Linked DNA regions of Homo sapiens. The protein of the gene in region 2 purifies or fractionates together with the protein of the main gene of each other region. This does not show direct contact. Each region holds a gene or a part of one and is shown on either strand. Other genes may lie near its edges.

Region 1 (3,820 bases), on a different chromosome or scaffold from region 2:
CTATACTGAACTTTCTCTTACTTTCTCAGTAGGCCAAAGTGGTAAAAAGCAAATGAGTACTGCCAGAAACAGGCATGGAATACCAAAACAAGAATTTTACAGAGGAGAAAACAAACAGGAAGACAGCAGGGAGAGTTCCAGAACAAAAGGACAACAGTAAAGGACGACAGGGCAAGAATGGAGAATGAAGAATTATCAAGACAATACCTTCACCTCTTCCGATGACGTACCCACACAATTTTTACAGGATACACACATCCTTGGCTGGGTGCGGTGGCCCAGCACTTTCGGAGGCCAAGGCGGGCAGATCACCTGAGGTCAGGAGTTTGAGACCAACCTGGCCAACACGGTGAAACCCCGTCTCTACTAAAAATACAAAATTAGCCGGGCATGGTGGCGGGTGCCTATAGTCCCAGCTACTTAGGAGACTGAGGCAGGAGAATCGCTTGAACCCAGGAGGCGAAGGTTGCAGTGAGCCAAGATCACGCCACTGCACTCCAGCCTGGGTGACAAAAGCGAGACTCTGTCTCAAAAATAAATAATAATAAAATAAAATGCAATAAAAAAACACACATCTTCTAAGACACTAAGGCGTTTTGCTCCCCCAGGTAGGTAGCCCCAATACACTTTAGTTAACCGAGTATGAGTCTTCATAGAGCTATGCTGCCAGCTTAAGCCTACTGATTCCCAAGTATCTCAACTCTACAATTAGAATAAGCAACTGATTAGGTGTATTTTCTACTTTCTTTCAGTTATTAACAATGAATAACCTTCACTCAATAAACGAACCAGGCGCAGTGGCTCACGCCTGTAATCTCAGCACTTGGGGAGGCCGAGGTGGGTGGATCACTTGAGGTCAGGAGTTGGAGACCACCAGCCTGGCTAACATGGTGAAACCCCATCTCTATGAAAAATACAAAAAAATTAGCTGGGCATGGTGGCACATGCCTGTAATCCCAGCTACTCGTGAGGCTAAGGCACAAGAATCGCTTGAGCCCGGGAATCGGAGGTTGCAGAGAGCTGAGATGGCACCACTGCACTCCAGCCTGGGCCACAGAGCGAGACTCCATCTCAAAAAAATAAATAAATACTTTCCCTTAGACTGACATAAAAATGATTTGACATCCATCTATTTAAGCCAGTGGTAAAACAATTTCGTGTTAATTATACCACCCCAGTTATGAAGCATATTGCAAAAACTCATGTTTATATAAAACATTCATGTCATCAACAAAGAATGAAACAACAGTAGAAATGAATTAGGTGAAATGCAATGCAAATAGCTGGTAACCAGTAATAACAGAAAAGGTTAAGTGTTTAGTAATTGTTCAGTGTTCAGCTCCTTTAGATGATAACAACCTGTCCACCTATGGGTCATCGAAAATGCCAGAACATAGGACAGTGGCCATGGAAGTTGGGATCCCCTGAGGAGTGTGTACAACTCGCCTAAGGGTGTAGGTGGGGAAAGGAGGGGGGTCATCAACTGTAAACTAAAACCATTCCTCCCACCTATCTGCGGTTATTTTCCCCGGAAAGAAATCCATTATAATTTTAAAAACCTAAAAATCACAGGGCGCCTGTAAGCCCAACACTTTGGGAGGCCTAGGCGGGCAGATCACAAGGTCAGGAGTTGGAGACAAGCCTGGCCAGCATGATGAAACCCCGTGTCTACTAAAAATACAAAAAATTAGCCAGGCGTGGTGGTGCGTGCTTGTAATCCCAGCTACTCAGGAGGCTCAGTCAGGAGAATCACTTCAACCCAGGAGGCAGAGGTAGCAGTGAGCCGAGACCACGCACCTACACTCCCGCCTGGGCGATAGAGCAAGACTGTGTCTCAAAAAAAAAAAAAAAAAAAAAAAAAAAAAGGGTCCAGGTGCAGTGGCTCACGCCTGTAATCCCAGCACTTAAGGAGGCCAAGGCAGGCGGATCACCTGAGGTCAGGAGTTCGAGACCAGCCTGACCAACATGCAGAAACCCCGTCTCTACTAAAAATACAAAGTTAGCCAGGCATGGTGGCGCATGCCTATGATCCCAGCTACTCCGGAGGCTGAGGCAGGAGAATCACTTGACCCTGGGGGGGCGTAAGTTGCAGTGAGCTGATTGTGCCATTGCACTCCAGCCTGGGCGACAGAGTGAAACTCCATCAAAAAAAAAAAAAAAAAAAAAAAAAAAGAAAGAAAAAACCTAAAAATCTTTCTCAGCAAGAATTGCCCCCAACCCCGTCCCGCAAAAAGAACCCCCAAAGCCTACATTTTAATGTCAGTCTCTGTAGTCATATTTGAGTAAGCTGAATCGCTGGAGGGGCATGTGGCAGAGGAGACTCAGCACACAATGCTCCCCAACCCCCCTACCTCCAAGGGCCAAAACTACAAGCTGTGGTCCTATCACTCAAACCTTCTGTGTGGTGGTGTGGCAGACTTTGGGCATCTGAAGAGGATAATGTAACAAATGCCCGTGCTGCGACTAAATTAATAAATAAATCAGAGTGGGAAAAAAGCCAAACTTCCAAAGATTTCCCATTTTATTCCACACTTAAATCCATGGCCCCTTTTTAAACTGGAGACTTATGAAACTTTTAACTTTTCTAATCATGGCTAACAGGAATTCTCAACTCTCAGCCAGTTTTCTGAGCAATCTACCGTCAGTCGTCCGAATTATTTTTCATTCTTTAACATCTATTTTATTTTTATTTTTTTTGAGACACAGTCTCGCTCTGTCGCCCAGGCTGGAGTGCAGTGGTGAGATCTCATCTCACTGCAACCTCCACCTCCTGGGTTCAAGAGATCCCCCTGCCTCAGCCTCCCCAAGTAGCTGAAACTACGTACGCACGCCACCACACCCGGCTAATTTTTGTATTTTTAGTACAGACGGGGTTTCGCCATGTCGGCAGGCTGGTCTCCAACTCCTGACTTCAGGTGTTCCACCTCCCTCGGCCTCCCAAAGTGCTGGGATTACAGGTGTGAGCCACCGCACCCGGCCAAGATCTAATTTTAAAGTAAGAAAAAGCAAATATCTCCAATAAATTTCTCTCCCTTCATTTTGCACCATTGTGAATGGTTCTCAAAGGGCTGTCCGGGAAGCAGCCACCATCAACACCACCTGGGGAGCTAATCGAAATGCAAATTGTGGGGCAACTCCCCAGACCTGCAGAATCAGCCTGGGAGGTAGGGCCCAGCAAGCAGAGTCCGCACATGCCAGCTCTCCCGGGGACGCCCAGGCGCGGTGGTTTCACAACCTCGGCTTAGGGGTTGAGTCACACTGGCCAGGTTCATGTGCTAGGCAAGCAAGAGTACAGAACTCTCCAACTTCTCTAGACTTGTTCCGCTCTATAGAATAGAATTACAGACTTGTCACAAAGATTAAATAAGAAAAATACTGTACATCCAAAGCGCTCAAGAGCCATGGAGGGGGCACGGAAGACACTCAAATGTAAGCAGCATTGCTACCACCGGCAAGGCACGAGGACGATGCCAAACTGGAGGGGGAAGTGGAGGGAGAAAGACATAGGAGGAAAAGGCTTCTTGTCCCTGCCCCTACGAGCTCAACACCCAGTGACTAGGCCAGATGCAGAGGAAAGTAAAAGTGCCCTTAGCCGGGCGTGGTGGAGCGCTCCTGTAATCCCAGCTACTCAGGAGTCTGAAGCAGGAGAATCGCTTGAACCCGGGAGGCGGAGGTTGCAGTGAGCCGAGATCGCGCCACTGCACTCCAGCCTGGGCAACGAGAGCGAAACTCCGCTTCCGAAAAAAAAAAAAAAAGAAAAGAAAAGAAAAAGGAAAAGGAAAAAAAAGAGAGAAAATAAAGGTGCCCTGCGAGGAAGGGC
Region 2 (3,820 bases):
TTCTTCCTTTTTTTAATTCAAAGCCAGTTTTACTGCAAAGTTTGCCTTTGGCCCTATACTTGGAGTTTTACAAGTTACGTCCCTACATTTGCATAATACAACGAATTTAGCTTAAATTTGGAAACAGGGTAAAGTTTTGTTCCAGAATTGTTGCAAGAGGAACACTGGGCACAGCTTAATGATCTTTTCTTTTAGATTCTTCCTCATCTTTGAAACCTTTGCAAGAGTTCCTGAGTCCAAGAGGAGATTGGTGAGATAGCCTGCCCCTCTCACTTCTGCCCCAAACCCTGCTGCTGGGGCAGCTTATAATCTCCTGGGAAAATGTGGGGATGTCAGCAAGTTGAATGTCTCTGAAGAGATTAACCCAGTAAGAAATGTCGGTGAGCTGCACAAGCAGCTTGAAACATGACCGACCGCTGAGAAACATGTGGAAGTGGAGCAAGGGAGAGTGGGCCAGTCATTCACCTGTACGGAGACGCTGTCCCCCAGGAGAGATAATCGGTGGGTCTCGGAGCAGGACGAGGTACGATGGGCTGCTCCACAGCAGTCACGTCTCCTGAGTAGGATTTGAGGAGGGAAGCGTTTTTATTGGCTAGCATGGCTCTCTCATTCCTGCGGAACTTGGCTCTTCGGTTCTGAAACCACACCTGGAGGATTGTTAGGAGGCAAGAAGGCATAAGGAAAGAGAGGAAAAACAAAGAAGAAGGGGTTACATGAATGAAATTCTGCTTGATTTTACTATATAATGCCTTCCCAAAGAAGATATAAGATGGCTATGGAATTCTCCGTAGAACAATAGAAACATGCCATCCGCCTTCCCTCAATGAGGGCCATTCTTAAAGGTCAAGACTATTACAACAAGACCATGAAATTCTCCAGTAATCAGGTCTCCAGATATGGGATCTGTGACTTACCCACGGGACAGCAAAATATGGGTTATAATCCCTGTTACAATTGTAATCAAGAAAAGTGAAGAAAAATCTCATTAGGCTTCTGCCACAGAAATAATGACTTTTCTAAAAGCTTTTTCAAAATTCTTCAAAATGTGAAAATTTCATCTGCTTTCATAATAATTATATTTTAAGAAAATTCCCCATCTCCCAAAAGTAGATGTTCCAACAAAGATTTAAGAAGGAAATGTTTTATTTGGGAGGTGCAAAGACCACCATTTGGGGAGCAAGGAAGTAACAGAGATGAAAAGGCAACCACTAAAGGGTGTACTACTAAACCAGCTATCTCTGTGGTAGCTCAATCCTGCAGAGAACCTGAAGACTAAGACTAACGTAGAACACACACTTCAGAGTTATCCCTCTTGGAGGTGATAGAGCTGGGTGTGTGTACACTGGATCCTGTCAGTCATTGTCTATTAATGTTCCAGCACTTCTAGAATGCTGAAGGCAGGGCACTCTCCTGAAGTTCTAGGAAGAAACTGCTGGCACAGAAATGCAGGCACTGAAAGTTGGAAGCTGACCAGACTACACCTAATTGTAGGGTTCAAGGGAAATGGACAGCACTGACAGCATTTGCTACAACTAATAATAAACCTATAATTTAATTTTATTTATTTTTATTTTATTTTATAAGTTCTGGGATACGTGTGCAGGATGTGCAGGTTTGCTACATAAGTCAAACTGTCTCTGTTTGCAGATGACCTGATCCTGTATCTAGAAAACCCTATCGTCTCACCCCAAAAACTTCTTAAGCTGATAAGCAACTTCAGCAAAGTCTCAGGGTGCAAAATCAGTATGCAAAAATCACAAGTATTCCTATACACCTACAACAGAAAAGCAAAGAGCCAAATCATGAATGAACTCCCATTCACAATTGCTACAAAGAGAATAAAAAACCTGGGAATACAGCTAAGAAGAGAAGTAAAGCACCTCTTCAAGGAGAACTAAAAACCATTGCTCAAGGAAATCAGAGAGGACACAAACAAATGGAAAAACATTCTATGCTCATGGATAGGAAGAATCAATATCACAAAAATGGCTATACATCCAAAGTAATTTATAGATCTAATGCTATTCCCATCAAATTACCATTCACATTGTTCACAGAATTAGAAAAATCTACTTTAAAATTTATATAGAACGAAAAAGAGCCCGTATGGCCAAGACAATCCTCAACAAAAAGAGCAAAGCTGAAGGTATCACACTATCTGACTTCAAACTATTCTACAAGGCTACAGTAACCAAAACAGCGTGGTATTAGTACAAAAGCACACACACAGACCAATGGAACAGAATAGAGAACTCAGAAAAGACTGTACATTTACAACCATCTGATATTCATCAAGCCTGACAAAAACAAGCTATGGGGAAAGGATTCCCTATTTAATAAATGGTGCTTGGAGAACTGGCTAGCCATATGCGGAAAACTGAAACTGGACCTCTTTGTTACACCATATACAAAAATTAACTCAAGATAAATTAAAAACTTAAGTATAAAACCCCAAACTATAAAAGCTCTAGAAGAAAATACAGGCAATATCATTCAGGACATAGGCATGGGCAAAGATTTCATGATGAAAACGTCAAAAACAATTTCAACAAAAGCAAAAATTGACAAATGGGATCTAATTAAAGAGCTTCTGCACAGAAAAATAAACTATCATCAGAGTGAACAGGCAACCCACAGAATGGGAGAAGATTTTTGTAATCTATCCATCTGACAAAGGTCTAATATCCAGAATCTACAAGGAGCTTAAACAAATTTATAAGAAAAAAACAAACAATCCCATGAAAAAGTGGGCAAACGATATTGTTTTTTAAGTGTTACCAGGGCTAGGAACTTATATAAGCACACTACATACATTATTTCTAGTCAACATGACAATTCCACGTATTAGGTTTTATTATTTCTATTTTACAGTTGAGGAAGCAATTTCAATGAGATTAAATACAGTCATGCACCACATATGATGGACCTCATATACGACAGTGGTCTCATTAAATTATAATACCAAATTTTTGCTATTTGATATGATTAGATACGCAAATACTTACCATGGTATTACAATCGCCTACACTATTCAGTAGAGTAATATGCTGTACAGGCTTGTGACCTAAGAGCAATAAGCTATACCCTATAGCCTAGGTGTGCAGTCAGTTATACCATCTAGATTTGTGTAAGTAGACTCCATGATGTTTGCACAATGACAAAATTACCTAAAAATGCAGTTCTCAGAACAGATCCCCATTGTTAAGCATTGTATGACTGTAATCTGTTGAAATTCACATAAATAATAAATGGCTGAGTTTCTGAAGTCAAGGACATCCAATTCATGATCATACAACTCTTCTAGAGTGCTATGGAATTCTACTCATTCATTTACTCATTCAAGAAATCTTTATGGAGCACCTGCTATGGTCCAGGCCCAGTACTAAATGCTGGAAAGAGAGAGATGAGAAACTTATTCTCTGCTTTTAAGCAGATCAAAACCTATTAAATGAAGACATGTAAATTTGAAAAACTACAAAACAAGTATTTTAAGTGCAATTATAGAAATGTATAACAAGGTATGGGAGAAGAAAATTCTTTTTGTGGAGTGAGCAGTTGTACAGCTCGAGGGGCCAACATACACATAAATTACCACGTGATCAGTGCCCTGTAGAGCTGTGCAGCATGAAGGGCCTGGGTGGAAATTGGCCAAGGTGGAATCTGGACTTGGCTTCCCACACTCCTGGCTCTTCTGTTTCTAATGTGCCTTCACATTGCTCTTAGAGCTATCATCTTAAATGTTAATACAATCACCTTATTGCCTCGTTTTATATCATCTACTGGCTCCCCGTTACTCACAGAATAAAATAAAAACTTCTTA

The links.
Region 1: the proteins of PRRX1 (region 2) and GTF2I purify together in Homo sapiens (co-purification; one study listed by BioGRID). This does not show direct contact.

What each region holds. Positions count from the first base shown.
Region 1 is NC_000007.14:74,660,557-74,664,376, reverse strand, and holds part of GTF2I (general transcription factor II-I), read right to left. Parts: intron 1-3,820. UniProt on the Homo sapiens protein: Interacts with the basal transcription machinery by coordinating the formation of a multiprotein complex at the C-FOS promoter, and linking specific signal responsive activator complexes.
Region 2 is NC_000001.11:170,723,047-170,726,866, reverse strand, and holds part of PRRX1 (paired mesoderm homeobox protein 1), read right to left. Parts: intron 648-3,820; coding exon 466-647; intron 1-465. UniProt on the Homo sapiens protein: Master transcription factor of stromal fibroblasts for myofibroblastic lineage progression. Orchestrates the functional drift of fibroblasts into myofibroblastic phenotype via TGF-beta signaling by remodeling a super-enhancer landscape.